Regions from separate parts of the Homo sapiens genome. Here region 2 is linked to region 1. The links come from fine-mapping of genetic effects on gene expression. A gene starts in region 1. The other region holds a variant in brackets. All regions are shown on one strand. Distances are from middle to middle. Region 1 holds the start of KCNH2 (potassium voltage-gated channel subfamily H member 2). Region 2 has its middle 41 kb from the start of KCNH2.

The links.
Region 2: its variant is fine-mapped to the expression of KCNH2 in whole blood (INTERVAL, PIP above 0.99).

What each region holds. Positions count from the first base shown.
Region 1 is chr7:150,974,154-150,982,274 of GRCh38, forward strand. KCNH2 (potassium voltage-gated channel subfamily H member 2) reads right to left here and starts at 4,168. Exons shown (of 15, transcript NM_000238.4): 1 at 3,685-4,168; 2 at 558-788. The coding sequence starts at 3,760. It overlaps LOC124901776 (a long non-coding RNA gene), which reads left to right and starts at 1,165. Exons shown (of 3, transcript XR_007060592.1): 1 at 1,165-1,322; 2 at 2,383-2,558; 3 at 2,692-3,202. RefSeq lists silencers at 303-372, 473-522, 913-1,062, 4,836-5,185 and an enhancer at 1,540-2,466.
Region 2 is chr7:150,933,467-150,941,587 of GRCh38, forward strand. No RefSeq gene overlaps it. Among named protein-coding and RNA genes, the nearest start is that of KCNH2, 41 kb to the right of the region's middle. The variant G/T (reference allele first, on the strand shown) is at 4,190.

The sequences.
Region 1 (8,121 bases):
TGCGGGGAGAGGCACGCACCTCCCCCAGGTGCTGCTGAAGCGCAGGGCAGGAGGGGGGCAGCAGAGACAGCCAGAGTCCTGCAGCCCTCCTGTCCCTCCATGACATCTCCCAGACCTGTCACCTGGCAGCAACTGCCCTAAGGTAGATAGGGGCCTGTGCCCGGATGTCAGCGCACAACTGCCAATCTGACCTTTAACCTCCATCCACGCACGTACCTGCCATCCCAGCTCGGTCTAACTCTAGTCCAACTTGCTCTACGTGCCCACACCTGCCCAGGGAAAAAAAGGACCAGAGGAGCCAGACCCACAGCCTAGCAACTCCTTTGCCCTCCTGAAAACCATCTCAGCAGAGTGAGGCGCAGGCCCCGGAACCGCGCCTCCCACAGGCACACCGCAGGGCCCCCGCCCGCGTCACACCCCCACAGAACCCTGCCCGGGCTCGGGGCGTTCTCCAGCCGCCCCCACACCCCCACACCCCCACGCACCCTGCCCCTCGCCGTGGTCCCGCCCCTCTTGACCCCGCCCCTGGTCGTGGCCCCGCCCCGGCCCGCTCCTACCATCTTTCCGGTAGAAGGCGATTTCCACTTTGCGCTCCTCGGCGCCCAGCAGTGCCTGCGCGATCTGCGCGGCAGCGCGGCGCTGCGTGCGCGGCCCGTGCAGGAAGTCGCAGGTGCAGGGTCGCTGCATCACCTCGGCCCGCGAGTAGCCGCACAGCTCGCAGAAGCCGTCGTTGCAGTAGATGACGGCGCAGTTCTCCACCCGAGCGTTGGCGATGATGAACTTACGGCCTAGGGGGGCGGGGAGGAGAGTGCGCGTGAGCGGGGACCCCAGCCTCCGGGACTCCCAGCCCTTCCCCACATTCTCCACTCACACAGCCGCCCGGGGACTCCCCGCCACAGGAAGCATGGCTGGGACTGGGGTCCCAGCAGGGGGCGAACGCAGCTGTGCGTGTGCCCCGATACAGGTGCCTGGCCGGCCGGGCCGCGCGGCGCGCCCCCTCCTCCGCCTGGCCCGCGGGCGGGCTGCGTGGCTTCCCCCGGGCAGGCCGCCAGCAGCCCGCCGCCTCCTCCATGCCCGAGGCTGAGGCCAGCCTGGCGGGTGTCAGCAACGCGTGTCAGCAGCCGCGGCGGAGGGATAAACACTGGGCCTAGAAAGGGAGCCTGGGAAAGGCCAGAGATGGCGGCCAGGATTCCCTTTGCATCGGCTCTCTGGATTCTGCTTTTAATTTCCCTGCTCTCCAGACTGGGGGGCGCTCCCTGAGCCACTCCTTATCCTGAGGCTCCCTAGGAAATCACTCCCCGATTATCTGAGGATCCTACCAGGTCAGTACCCCCTAGAACTTCTGCACACCACCCCCGCCCCAAGGGCAGTCAGGAGCTGAGGGGTGGGTGTGCCAGAGAGGATGAGGGAAGTTACACGTTGAACACCTAAGGACGCTGCATCTCATTAGGTCCTCTGACAACCCCATAAGGTAGGTGTTATTATCCTCCTTTTATAGATGAAGAAACCAAGGCTCCAGAGAAGTTCGGCACCATGCCCAAGTCTTGCAGCTTGTAAATGATAGAGCCAGCTTTTGAACCTTGGTCTGGCAGAGGCAGAAGAATAAGCTGAGGGTCACAGGCAGAAGCCCAAGGTCATAGGAAGCAAAGAGAGGGACCTGCAGCTCCAAACCCTGGACACACCTGGAGCCTGGGCGGGGCCTGAGACTTTGGCCCCACTTGTAGGAAAACAGACCCAAGAAAGGGGACCTGCCCAGGGATGTGAGGCCTTCCTCAGTTTGGCCTCATCCTGGATGAGCACCCCCATGGTTCCATTTCTGCCAGACTTGGCTCCCTGACTCCAGGCCTGCCCGGAGAGCCAGGCTGGCGAGTGAGCAGCAGGCAGGCAGCAGCCTCACTTGTGCCAGGCAAGATGCTCCTGGGATAAGAGCTTTTTATAAACAGAAGTTTCCGGCCACTTTGGCCTGTAATGCTGGGGCTTTCAGTAGCAGTTGGAATTCTCCCCCTCCCTTCCCCTCCCCTCCCCAGCAAGCATAGCCCTCAGGTTGCAGCCCTAGGCAATCCTACGTGCAAAGCTGGGCTGCAGCAGGGCACCCTGAGATAGGCCCAGGCCATCAGGACTTGGCCTCCTCCCACCTTTCTCGATTCTCCCTTCCCCTGGCCCCCAGAAAGTTGCCTTTTGGAACTGGTTCATCTTTTGGCCAGTTCCCAAGGCCCCCCAGACCTCCCAGGCAGCCATCAATTCCAGGAGTCAGGGTTTCCTGTCACCTGAAAAGACCCCCTAACTCGGCCTCCAGCTCTGCCACAGTCCAAGGCAGTCCAGAGGCCCAGCCACACACCCCAGCTTCATAGAAGAAAAACCACCCCTTGTCCTCTCTCCCAGGCTGGGGAAAGAAGAGCAAGTTTCTTCGAAGGCATGCCCCACCCCACCACACACCCTTCACTGAGATCCTGGAATACAGGGATGGGACAGAAAGCCTGCCCCTCCTCCACAGACCTGGAACCTGAGACCCAAAGAGGGAAGAGTCACTCAAGGTCACATGGCAGTCAGTGGCAAAGGTAGGGCTAGAATCCAGCACCCCCCCCCACATCCATCCCAGCCTCCTCGTAGGCCCGCCCACAGCCTCCCCCTGGGCCCACCCCCACCTCTCAGGGAGGCCCTCAACCAGTGTCATTGTCTCCACCCCCTCAGGATCATCTTGTTCCTCCGCTTCACACAATACTGACCATCGGACTGACCCCTCCTTCCCCCAACCACCGTTACAAGCACGCGTTGTCCTGTGCTCACAGGGTCATGGACAAGGAATGTCATCCTCTCCCAACTCCCAGGGCCCTTGGCAGTCACACCCACTGTGGCTCATGCAGCCTTAGGGACAGGCACATGAATGCTGCCCACCCCCAGGACATTTGCCTAATCTGGGACCCTTCTAGAAGCCTCCCTACCAGGCAGGCATTAGGGGTGCTGTACTCCCGGTCCCCATAAGGGAATTAGGTGACAGTCTCCAGGGCAAGAAAACCCACAACTTGGGGGTACCACAGGGAGCTGCTTACCCTCAAAGCCCAGCTCTAGCCCCAGGACACCCTGTCTCCACAGAGCCCACAAGCTCGCAGCCTTGTCAAAGACACCTCCCCACCGCCCATACAGGGTCTAACTCACGGGTGACACATGGGCTCAGGGTTATATACACACGGCACACACAAGAAGAGATTATGAGCTGACCCTGCATCCACGGCTTTTCAGTCCCTCCGGCACAACACAGTCAAGATCTGGCAAGACCAGTGTGCGCGCTGGACTCTCGGGATCCCAGGGTTTGGGTCGTACACACTCTTATGCCCTTGCACACAGCCCCATCCACGTCCACGCACCCAGAGTTGGGGACACCTGCACACTCCATCCCACATCCCTTCCCTGCACACTCAGCGTGTCACACACACTCCGATCCCAAAAGCCTGAGCTGAGTTTCCCGCCCCAAGCCCCAACCCCAAACCCTTTGGCCCGGTGCCCACGGCCCCGGTGCACCAAGCCTTGCCCCCGCCGTCCCCTCGCCAAAGCCTGGGGCCCACCAGGCCCCATTGACTCGCACTTGCCGACGCACACGGCCCGGGCACGCCCCCCCATCCACACTCGGAAGAGCTCGGCCCGCCCCCAGAGCCCCCTCCCCGCTCAGCCCCCTCCCCCACTCACTCTGGCCCTCAAACTTGCGGATGATGGTGTCCAGGAAGGTGTTCTGCGGCGCGACGTGGCCCCTCCGCACCGGCATCCTGAGCCCATGGGCGGGCCGGGCGGGCCCCCACCCACCCCGGCCCGGCCCGGCCCAGCACTAGGCTTCGGGTGGCCCGGCCGGGCCGTGGTCCCCGCACCCCGCGGCCAAGCCGAGCACGGGCGCGGCCAAGACTGGACTGCGGGCGCCGGGTCCTCGCTCGGCTCCCGGCTCCCCGCTCCGGACCCCGGGCCCGGCCTGGAGCCGCCTGAGCGCGAGCCGCCCGCCGCCGGCACACCTGTCTGCCGGCCCCCGCCGAGCCGCGGGGCCCGCTCCGCCGCGTCCCCGCGCTGCGCTCCGCCCGCCCGAGCCCCGGACTCCTGGCTCCCGCCTGCCACCGCGCCGACAGCCGCTCCAGCGCCCGCGGCTCGGGCAGCGCCTGCGGCTCGGCCCGGCCGCGGAAGGGTTAATGCGGCGCGCGCCCCTCCGGCTCCGGCCCCCGCCTCCCGGCCCCCTCCCGCCTGCCGCGCGCCCGCAGCACCGCCCTCTCCCCCCCCCATCCCGCCCCACCGCGCGCGCCCGACCTTCCCATTGGCTGAGCCGCGCCGAGTGCTCCCCCAACGCCAGCCCCTCGCTCTGCCAAGGAGCCCCTGGGACTCGCGCGCCCAGAAGAGGGGGAAGGGACCCTTAGGCAGGGGAAACCGTGAGGACAGGTGCCATGGCCGGCTTGTAGGCGGCCGGGATGGGGGAAGGGATTCCACCCCCACCCCAGATTAGCGACTAAGAAACCTGATTTGAAGGGAAACGGCGGGTCCTTATGCCCTGGTTCCCCACCACGCCGAGCACTGGCTTGGTATACACAGCACGCGCTCAGTGCCTACTGTGGGTGACCGGGGCAACGCCTGGACCCTCGAAGACGAGCCCGGAGTCAAGGGAGACCCTGGAAATAGGAAAAGCAAGACAATCTGAAGGCCCCAGAGCAGCAGAGCTCTGAAATAAGGGAGGGTTAAACTTAGAAGGGGCACGCCCCCTGCCCCAACACACACACACACACACACACACACACACACACACACATACACACACACACACACACACACACACACACACACATACACACACACACACGGAGAGAGAGAGAGCCCTCTGTGGGGCTCTGCATAGGAGCTGCACAGAGAGGGACATTCTGACAGCAGTTGCGGCCTCCTAGCTGCAGGATCAAAGAGAGGTCCCTGAGCGCGAGGTTCCAACCAGGGGATCCCCGGGTGCGAGCGGCCCGCCCTCCCCCGGCAGCCCGGGGCCAGCCTTGCACGCCCAATCGGCGGGCTCGGGGCCCTGCGGCGGCGGCCACGGCCCAGCCCCTCGGAAAGCCCTGGCCTAGCCGCAGGCCCCTCCCCCCGGCCAGCTGGCTCGCTCCAGCTGCGGCTCCCTTATTTAGGCAAGGAGGCCTAGGGATGCTCAAGGGCAGGCGGGGTGTCTGCCCCGCCGCCTGCTCATCGCCTGCTTGCGTCTGAGTGAGGGTCTCCGGGCGCGGTGTCCTCGGACTTAGCAGTCAGGCAGGGCCCCGGGAAGGCCAGGGCGGGGAGGCGAGTGTTGACAGCTGAGTGGGCGGGCGGGGAGGGAGGAGTCGCAGCTGAACAGCCGAGGGTCCCCTCCCTGCAGCCGGATCAGAGACCTGTCTAGATGGATGGGGCCATGTGGGGGCTCCTGAGGGCTTGCAGCTGCCTCTGTCCTTGGAGCAGGGGCTGGGTCTTGTCACCAGCGAGAACCATCATGGGGGGAGGGGAAGAACAAAGGGCAGGGAAGGAATCGGAGTCCCGAAGGAGGAAGGCGCAGAAAACTGTCGTCGTGAGACCACCCTACCCGGACTCTCACCTTCCACCCAGGAGCACAAAGATGCAAACACTGGGGCCAAATGGGGCCACTGGCCAGCAGATGACACTCTTTTTTATTTGCTGGTGGGTGGGCAGTGACTCAGGGAGGCAGCCAGTGGGAGAGAAGGAGGTGGCTCCACAGCTGATGCTAAAAAAGTCCAGAGGCTCTTGCCTGTGCAGTTATTCCTCAGGCCCTCTCCACTGCCAGCAGTTTCCTCACTCACCCCCCCGGGGGCCCAGGGCCTTCCACAGCACAAGCTCCTCCTTGGTGTAGCATTTGGCATCAGGTGCATCAACACATCTGGGTTCCGGGTAGAACCTAGTCCACGACTGGCCCAGCCCCCGCCACGCCCCAAGGCCACCCCTGGCTGCTGGGTTGCCTACCATGAATCCAGGATGATTCATGTGTGAGTGAAGTGTCCTCCTGTCCAGGCCAGGGGATGGAGAGAAAGTGAGCAAAGGCCAGCAGCTGAGAATGGGCATGGGAGGGCAAGAAGGGAAAGGGACATCTGTAGCCTCCCCCTCTCTCCAGACCAAGGGAGAGGGAGAGCCAGGCCCTGAAGGGAAGGAGCCACTCATCTGAGCTGGCCAGCTGTCCTCCACTCCTGTACCCGTGTTGCTGGGACAGGCCTCTGCTCTTATCCCAAAGGGAAGACAGGAGTCAGAGGAGCCCTTCATCCTCCCAAACAGAGAGGAGCCCAGGCACGGGGTAGCCCTCCTTCTGTGCACAGAGGCAAGAAGAGAGCTGTTCCCTCAAGCTGAGGAGAGACAGATCTCTCCCTCTCTCCCCCCAGCCCACTCCACATACTCAGAAGTCAAAGCTGAATGTAGATTTCTGACTTCCTTGGAGGCTCAGGGTAGAGCCTGAAGGCAGACCCACTTAGCCGCCCCCACACTCAAGAATTGAGCTGAGGAAGAGAAACGGTGAGAGGGGGCAAGCTCTCCCCAAAGCAACATTTCTGGGCCTCAGATGAGCTGATGGAGAAGCCCCCACTGCCTTCAACTTCCCACCTCTGCTACCCCCAGATCTGGGACAAAGAGAAAAGTGCCCAACCCTAATACCAAGAGCTGGGCTGTTAAGCCTCTAGAATCTGCCCCACCCCCATCTCAGCTCCAAGAGCCATTTCAGAGACCATTCCTGGGAAGAGCTCTCCCGCACCCTGCCTGTGACTGAGGGAACAGAGAGGCTACAGTGAGATATCCAGGCTCCTCCCAGCTCCCAAAAAGAAACAATTTAGGGAGAAAAGTCTGCAGAAAGCATCCTACCCACCCTGCTCTCTGCTCCTGCTCAGTCCGAAGGCATGGAGCCAGGACATCCTGGAAGGAGAAAGAGAAATGGAAGCCCACTCTGCCAGAGGTCCCCCAAGGAGCGGGCCAGGCAAGACACCACCAAAGTCAGGCCCAGGAGAGCCTGGGGTTACCCACAGGGGATTGGGAAGCAGTTCCAGTCGGCTGGGCACAGGAGAGACAGGTTACAGAGCAATGGTTCCTGGGAAACCCTGGGGAAGGAAGAACAGAGTGAGCAGGTCCCTTGATGCTTGAACACGGTGGGTTTTTTTTGTTTTTCTGTGCAACTGGGTCCCCAGAATAGAGATTTTTTTCAGATGTGAACTGGAGTTGGAGAAGAAAAGAATCAAAGAAACAGCATGTTTCCCCTCCAGAAGTGGATGATCAGGGCTTATTGATAGAAAGAAGGGAAGTAGGAAGGAAAGAAAGAAGGAAGAAAGGATGGAAGGAACCCGCCTGAAACCCCTAGCCAAGAGCCAGGACACTCTTCACTCATCGCCCTCTGCAGCTCCACATGTAGCAATCCTGCCAACCCCTGGTCCATTCCAAGGTCTTCTCTGGACAACCTGATCCCCACCTTTGGTGGGACATTTTCCCTGCCTTTGTGGTGTCAAAAGAAGCAAGTAAGGCCCTGGAGACTAGGATTCGGGAGATCTGACTTCTAATTCTGGTTCTGCTACTAGTTGCATCGACAAGTGTTTACTGGGGGCTTTCTAAGTACTGGGCCCTGTGCCAGACACTGCTGGGGGACAAGAGGGATAAGCCAGGATCCCTCCTCCAGGGATTCACAGTCTAGTGAGTTTTGAGGGAGACGGTGGGCAGACAGAAACTGCAGTCTGCAGTCAGTGCTGTGGGATTACGAGGAGGTGTTGGTTAATTTCAACCGGAGGAGTCTTGGAGGGCCTTGCCAGGGAAGGAGATTTCAGTGCAGGTCCTTGAACGTTGGAGGTGGGGCAGGGCAGAAGCATTGCAGATAGAAGAGACAACATAAGGATATATAAAGAAAGGAGAATGGAGATTGGGTCTGAGGACAAAATAATTTGATGTGGTGGCAGTGGAGCAGCAGGCTGGCACCATTTGCAGAGGGATGAGGACTATGAATTTTATTATCTCTGCAAGGGGGACACAGTAGTGGCAGGAAACAGTAAGGAAACAGTAGTGGCAGCTGAATGCAGAATCCATGAATGTAAATATTCTGTCTTTGTACAGACCCTGGCAAAGAGTAGGTATCCAAGAAAGGTTTGTTGATTGAATGAAACG
Region 2 (8,121 bases), 41 kb before region 1:
GTAACCTAACACTAAATGTCGAACATCAATTTTCCTAAATATTCATTGGCCATTTCCCACCAAAAAATAATTCCGCACGTCTTCATAGGCCATGGAAGTCTCTTCTCCCTCTCACCGCTGGGCCTCATCTCTCCCAGGATGCCCTTAAAGACTCAAAAGTGTGCCAGGTGGGGTGGCTCATGCCTGTAACCCCAGCACTTTGGGAGGCCAAGGCAGGCGGATCACTTAAGGCCAAGAGTTCAAGACCAGACTGGCCAACATGGTGAAACTCCGTCTCTACTAAAAATACAAAAATTAACTGGGCGTGGTGCTGCACACCTGTAATCCCAGCTACTGGGGAGGCTGAGGCACAAGAATCACTTGAACCCAAGAGGCAGAGGTTGCAGTGAGCCAAGATCATGCCACTGCACTCCAGCCTGGGCAACAGAGTGAGACTCTGTCTCAAAAAAAAAAAAAAGACTCAGAAACGATTCCTGGTGTACCATCTCTGACCAGCTCTCACTTACCCAGGCCCCTCTCTAAGGACCTCATCGTTAATAACCAAACAGACTACAGGGTACTTCTGAACAAAAGGAGCCATCTCTTCCTCACAGGAATAACCTGCCTTTCTCCCAGGACATTCAGTTTAAACTACAGTCAGCTTTTAAAAATATTTTTACTGTTAATATAGAAGACAGAAATGGCTGTTTCCACTTTCAGTGAGAAAACATTGAGGTAGGAGGTGAAACCAGGCCCCGCAGTGGCTTGCTGTCACGTTGTGTAGGGGAAGAAGGCAGCTGGGAAACCCCTCTTCCCAAAAAATCATAAAGAACAGGCCTGGAGCGGGGTTTCTGAGCCTCAGCACTATGGCCATCTGGGGCTGGCTGATTCTCTGTTGTGGGGGCTGTCCTGTGCCTGCAGGATGTTACTGGCCTCTACCCACTAGATGCCAGTAACAACCCATCTACCACCACCCTGAAGTGGGACAACCGAAAGTGCACAGACATTGCCACACATGCCTGGGGGGCAATATCACCTCTGGTTGAAAACCGTGGACTGGAGGAAAGACATGCCTGCCTGGACATAAGAGCAGGACAAGACAGCCTGGTTTTGTTCCTTCTGACCTGAGACTGTCCTCACCCTCCCTTGAGGTCCAGGCCTGTAACTGGGATCCACTGGCAGGCAGCCAGAGAAGTGGAGAGATGGGTAGGGTGAGGGCCTGGGAGCTCCAGCCAGATGGTGATTATCCAAATAAATATTGATTGAAACAGATTCCACTGTTTCCCTCTTCTCAAAGACATAACACCTTCTGCGGAAATGAATGGGAGCAGCTAAAGGGCTCCGCACCATCCCTCTCCAACCCTGGAGAAAGAACCCCACGCACAGGCCGCCCAGCACATCAGATACCTTCACACCCAAGAACAGGCCAGGCCAGGCATGGTGGCTCACACCTGTAATCCCAGCACTTTGGGAGGCTGAGACAGGTGGATTTCTTGAGCCCAGGAGTTCAAGACCAGCCTGGGCAACATGGTGAAACCCTACAAAATACCAAAAAAAAAAAAAAAAAATAGCCAGATATGGTGGTGCTCACCTGTAGTCCCAGCAACTCAGGAGGCTGAGTTGGGAGGATCGCTTGAGCCAAGGGAGGTTGAGGCTGCAATGAGCTGTGATCATGTCACTGCACTCCAGCCTGGCTGTCAGAGGGAGACCCTATCTCAAAAAAAAAGAAAAAAAAAAGAAAAATCTGGGTTTTACAAAGCTATGTTCCAAGGGTTGGGAGCATCACAGTTCTGCATTTGTGGAATTGAGGGGCCAGAGCTGTGTCCTAAACCTGGCCCTGACTCTATTTCTATGGCCTTGGCAAGCCACCTCCTGCCTCCGGGACTCCATCTCCTGCTCGGCATGGTAAATAGATGGAGCCCTGCACTCTCAAGAGCCTTCCAGTCTGCCGGTCTCAGCTCCCCAGCACCTGATCCTGTGCCCCTCCCAGCCTCCAGTGATCTATCGCTTGATAAGTTTTCTCAAAAGCCCACTTTCCAACCCTGATATTTTCAAGTAGCCAGTCAGCTTTCACTGAGCTCTGTGACAATGACAAAAATGGACAGAATTAAAACCCCAGGTTTCTATTTCCAATCCTCAGGGGCGGGGATGTTCACAAAGACACCTTCAGGCAGTGCCACTCTGCTGCTGGTCCTTCGTGCACACCTCTGGAGAGAGACTTCCTCAAACAGACCCTCACTTCATCTCCACCGCAATCTCAGCCCTGGCTGCAAAGAATTTATAGTCGTGTTAGGTAGACAAGACTAACACCACATTTCTAGTTTATTTCACCAAAGGTGAAATATTCCACCTTCTCCACAACAGCAACCAGGAAAATTTATCCCCAAAATAACATGTTTTATATCAGGTCTGTTTCATAATTTTAACCCTTAACCTGTGTTTTTAAATTTCACTTTAAAATACAAAAAGATGTGGCCGGGCATGGTGGCCCACACCTGTAATCCCAGCACTTTGGGAGTCAGAGCCAGGAGGATTGCTTGAGGTCAGGAGTTCAAGAGCAGCCTGGCCAACATGATGAAATGCCATTTCTACTAAAAATACAAAAATTAGCCAGGCATGGTGGTTCACGCCTGTAATCCCAGCTACTCGGGAGGGCTGAGGCAGAGAATCGCTTCAGCTGACATCGCCCCACTGCACTCCAGCCTGGGCAACAGTGTGAGACTCCATCTCAAAAAATAAAATAAAATACAAAAAGAGCAAATCCATCATTTACATCTGGGCCACAGTGTCCCTCCGTCTCCCTCTGGCCCCGGAGCACATGGCCATCTGGTTGTGCTGACTGTGCTGGGTACGCTGACTGGTCTATCCGCAGTCCATCCTGGCCCCTCACACACCTCCAGGTGCTAGTGTCAAGACACCTGTTATTCCCTCCATGTCATTCCCAGGAGCTCTCATGGCCGCATCTCCAAGAGCCAAGTCCCTGCCCCATCCTCCAGAGCCAGTTTCTAAGGACCCCACCTCCATTCACAACGGCACCATTGCTATTATGCAGCAATTAATGACTTAAGTTGAATTTTCATCAGCCTGGCCCTGTCTGAGAACTTAGCAGGCAACTGGGACCCTGCCAGTCTCTATGTGGGTCAAATGTGTCCCTTAATGATTTCTGAAAATGAAAACAACTCGATAACGTGTTTAGGATATGAGACTACTGAAGCCCCATTGGTAAGTTCCTTAGACCACAGAGAACACAGTATCAAAGTCAGGCTGTGAGCAAAGAGTGGACATCCCTCCAGTCCAGATAACCCTGCCCCTGCGGGCTTTGCAGTAAGAACTGAAAGTTCAGTCCTTCGGGTTTTTAAAAATATTTTTTCTGCTAATATAGAAGACAGAAATGGCTGTTTCCACTTTCAGTGAGAAAACATTATCCAGGTGTGGTGGCACACGCCTGTGGTCTCAGCTGCTCGGGAAGCTGGGGCGGGAGGATCACTTGAGCTCAGGAGGTTGAGACTGCAGTGAGCCATAGTTGCACCACTGCACTCCAGCCTGGGTAACAGAGGGAGACCTTGTCTCTTAAAAAAATAATAATTAATTAAAAAAAACTGTTACAGGACCAGGCACAGTGGCTCACGCCTGTAGTCCCAGCACTTTGGGAGGCCAACGCGGGTGGATCACCCAAGGTCAGGAATTCGTGACTAGCCTGGCCAATATGGTGAAACCCCACCTCTCTATAAAAATACAAAATTATCTGGGCATAGTACCGCATGCCTGTAATCCCAGCTACTCAGGAAGCTGAGGCAGGAGAATCGCTTGAACCCGGGAGGCAGAGGTTGCAGTGAGATCGTGCCATTGCACTCCAGCCTGGGCGAAAAAAGCAAAACTCAACTCCATCTCAAAAAAAAAAAAAAGTTACAGGACGGTGTGGCTTTGTGTGTCATGCAATGCCACAGAGGATAGCTGTAGACTGACAAGGGTTCATGGAGAGGCTTTATGGAGAGGGCTGCCAGGAGCCAGGTCCTGGAGAATGAGGAGGACTTGAATAGGAATAAAAGAAGCTCTGTTAGGCACTTCATAAAAGTGGGGCCATGGTCATTTTCTTTTATTTCTCTTATATGGTCCCAGCTAAATTATGAGCTACTGAAGGGTGCGGTTGCATCCCATCCAGCCTGCAGCAGGACGGGAAGTGAGGGGCCGTGCTGCTCTGGAAACTCCT[G/T]CCTTGAGCAACTTTAAGCCTCATTCCCCTCCACTGAAAAACGACGGGGTAGACTGTGCTCTCTCATGACTTTTGGCGACTTTCTGTGATTCTAGGTGGGGCTCAAGGAAAACATTTTAAGTGAAAGCTCTCCTGCCCTGGGTTGGGGTATAAAGTCTCCACGGGGGATCCCGGGCATGGTAAGCACCCACAAGGCCCAGTCTGCTCTGCTAGAGTGAGGCCACCTGGACAGGAGCCTCACCAGCACCGGATCCAGCTGCGGGGCTAACCCAAGACCCAGGACCAAGGAGACGCCACCCACAGGGGATGCTGAGGAGAGAGGCGTGTCTGTCCTGCTGCGTCAGTTACGTCCACCCTGCCAAGCACTTCAGCCAAAGGAGCTGCCTCTTTGCTAAAGTCACTTTCAGCTTTTCTGCACTTTTTCCATTTCTGAACCACAAATTTGGCAGTTACCCAGAACATTCAACGTTTACCAGTTGGTGAAAAGTTAGCAGGAAACTTCGAGGAGTTTGTCCTCAGCAAGCAACGCTGTGCCCCAACACCTCCTCAGTCATGTCTGGTGTGACTTGAGTCTCTAATAAGCAATGGCACTTGCCGTCCCCTCCAAACACTGATCCTTCACCTGATGCCTGAGGTTGCAAGAGGATAGGCTGGGCTAAAGCTGCAGCAGCTGCCTCGGCAAGTAGGAAGCTAATTGGCTCAGGAAGGGATATTCCTAAGACCTGGGCTTTGCAAGCCGTGAGCTGAACAGCTCAGCCTACGATCACGCACCACTTCCTGTGCGCCTCAGGACTGCCTTTAAGGCATGACAGGAGCCACTGAGCCAAGCCCAGCCCAACCCTCAGACCTGCACCAGGCTCTGCTCTCCCAGGAGATCCTGTGCCTCCCATTCAGCACAGTTCCTTTGCAGCTTCCTCATCCTCGCCAGCTCCGCATCTCTGCAACGTGCTGCCTCATTATGATGGCTAATTATTATTATGGGAAAACTGCTTGCTGACCAAGACAGAAGCCATACTGCAGCCTCTCCTCCCTTCCAGGGCCATGTTTTAATTCCTCCCTGGGGTTCATCAGATGCATCTGGATAGCATCCCAGTGGCTGTGGGAGGACAAGGAAAAAGGTCACCAGTGAGGTGGCACTGACAGGGTGGCCAAGAACTTAGGGCTTGAAGGTCTGGGATCATCTTTTAAGTTGTTTTCTGGCCTGTATCATGAGGTAACTTCCCCAGTGCTCACAAAGGCCCCTCACATTTTTTTCTTTTTGGAGACAGGGTATTTTGCTCTGTTGCCCAGGCTGGAGTGCAGTGGGGCGATCATGACTCACTGCAGCCTCAACTTCCTGGGCTCAAGGAATCCTCCTGCCTCAGTCTCCCAAGTAGCTGGGACTACAGGCACATGCCACAATGCCCAGCTGATTTTTTTAATTATTTTTTTAAGAGCCTGTTGCCCAGGCTAGTCTTGAACCCCTGAGCTAAAGCAATCCTCCCAGGCACAGGAACCAGCTGCATGCTTAGGAGCCAGTGCCTGCTGACTCCAATGTCTCAGGTGCCTTGACTCAGAACATAAGCCTCGCCCCTGCCCCTCAGGCATCCCCAGAGACATGGGGTGGCACTAGGCACATGGGCTCAACCCATTTCTCAGTATCTGAAAGAAAAAGCTCCCCCAGGGCCAGAGGATGGAGGACAGCTGAGTCCCTTCACTCATTCCCATGTCGCCTAATCCTCATTCCTCCATGCTCCTTTCTCCAGCCTGAGAATAACACTTCCCTAAGGTCACTTAGAGCCCCACAGAAAGCCAAACTTCTCAGCGGAAGAGTCATCATCCCAGGGCACCCAGGGTAACTTGACATTAAATACAGCCTCTCTGCTAAGACTTCCATTCCACCTGGGCTGCTTAAGTCCAGGAGACCACCCTGATTTGACCTTCCTAGTGTCCCTCATCAGCAAGTTCCATCTGATTATCTGGCTGCCATCACCTGGTAGAGCAGAAAGGGGAAGCAGAGCTGTCACATATGGTTGTGTTGCTATGAGAGCCCTCTCCAGACTGTTTCCCTAATGACTGATTTTCTTGCCAGTTAGCATCTAAGTCTTTTGCAGCCAGACCTTATGCTATTGCTAATTTTAAAATAATGGTAAGAGGATCATGCTAAATTCTTCTGCTCTGGTTTCTTAGCAATGTCTCTTGCAGACTTCCAACTCACTTATAAGGTGTGATTATTAATATAAAATAATGAAGCTGATTATTTAAACAAGTGCCTCAGAATGCATTCTCTTTTTCTTTTTTTGGAAGACAAAAGTTAACAACAACAACAACAAAAAACCTAGAATTGTACTTGGATGTTTAGTAATTCAAAATGATTAAGAAGCACCCTCTTTAAAATGCTACTGTAATAAAAAGATCAAGATAAATTGAGTTTTGGGGGTGGGAGGGTTGGGTTTTTTTGAGACAGGGTCTGGCTCTGTTGCCCAGTCTAGAGTGCAGTGGTGCGATCTCAGCTCACTGAAACCTCCGCCTCCCAGGCTCAAGCTGTCCTCCCACTTTAGCCTCCCAAGTAGCTGGGACTACAGGTGCGTGCTATCATGCTGGCTAATTTTTGTATTTTTTTGTAGAGACAGGGTTTTGCCATATTGCCCAGGTTGGTCTCCAACTCCTAATCTCAAGCAATCCACCTGCCTCGGGCCCCCAAAAGTGCTGGGATTAGAGGCGTGAGCCACCGCATCCAGCCTTAAATTGAGTTTTTATCGCTTAATACCAGGCATATATGCAGCTTTAAGAAAATAGTTACTATTTAATCTTTTACTAAATCAATTTTCACACTAACCACTCTTTAATGATATACAATTATCTAAAAATGCCTCAAAACAGTCACTTTGGAAGGCCCTGCGTTTTCCGTTTATTTCAACATCGTTGAGCACTTGAGAGACACTAACACACCACATGTGTCCTCTTATGGTCCTTGTGTTGTCAAGCTGCCAGGACTCCTACAAAGAAATACCTCTTCCTACAGCAGTGTAAGCTCTCACTGAAAAGCAAGTTCAATCAGGTTTCAGTTTCCGGAAGACTGTCCACCACCAGGGGAAAAGGTAGATCCCACAGACCCGAATCTGGAACTGCAAAGCCCCCGGTGTAACCTCCCTCAGCCTTGACCATCGAAGGACAAATGAACAACCACCCAGAGGACGGTGAGCTGGAGCCCTCCACTCAGAGGCCACCTGGAAACTGGAAACTGGGAGCAAACCCCCCTGCAAAAAAGTATCCCCAGTTCCACCTCAGAGGCATTCCAGAGCATGGGAACAGGGTGGGGCCCACAAGCCCGCAGACTGGGGCAGCCATGGACAGGCCCCAACATTCAATCTACAAAATGAATGGACTTGAGGCTCTCGGTCCAAGTCTCTGGTTTATCCTCCCCACTGCTCCCGTTATTCTCTTTCAAATATTTAATATTTACCTTGGTTGTGCTAAAGTAAAAAGAAAAAAAAAGATAAGCATGTGTAGCCACATTGCCAGTGAAGGAGTGGGGCTTGTGCTCCCTGGGGAGGCAGGCGGGGAGGCAGGCGGGGAGGCAGCCATAATCCAGAGGCCAAGCCTTTGGGAAGAAAGTGACCTCCAGGGACAGACGCAAATTTTAGCCCAGCCAACTCTGTCAGGAAGACATCTCCCTTTTCTGTGCAAAATCCTCAAACATGGGGTCTTGTGGGCTGCCTAGTGGCCACATCAGGTCCTGGGCACTGTGCTAGATGCTGGGTGGGAATAGGCGAAAAGATGACCAGCATTCAGCCCTTCCCCTTTACGGAGGACAGACGAGCAAGCAGGCAGGGTGTGGGGAGCCCCTAACACAGGTGCCAGCGAGTGCCACAACCGGCTGAGAAACCTGCAGAAGGCCTCAGGAGCGGCGACGTCCATGCTAGGGCTGGGAAGACAGAAGGGTCTTTCCA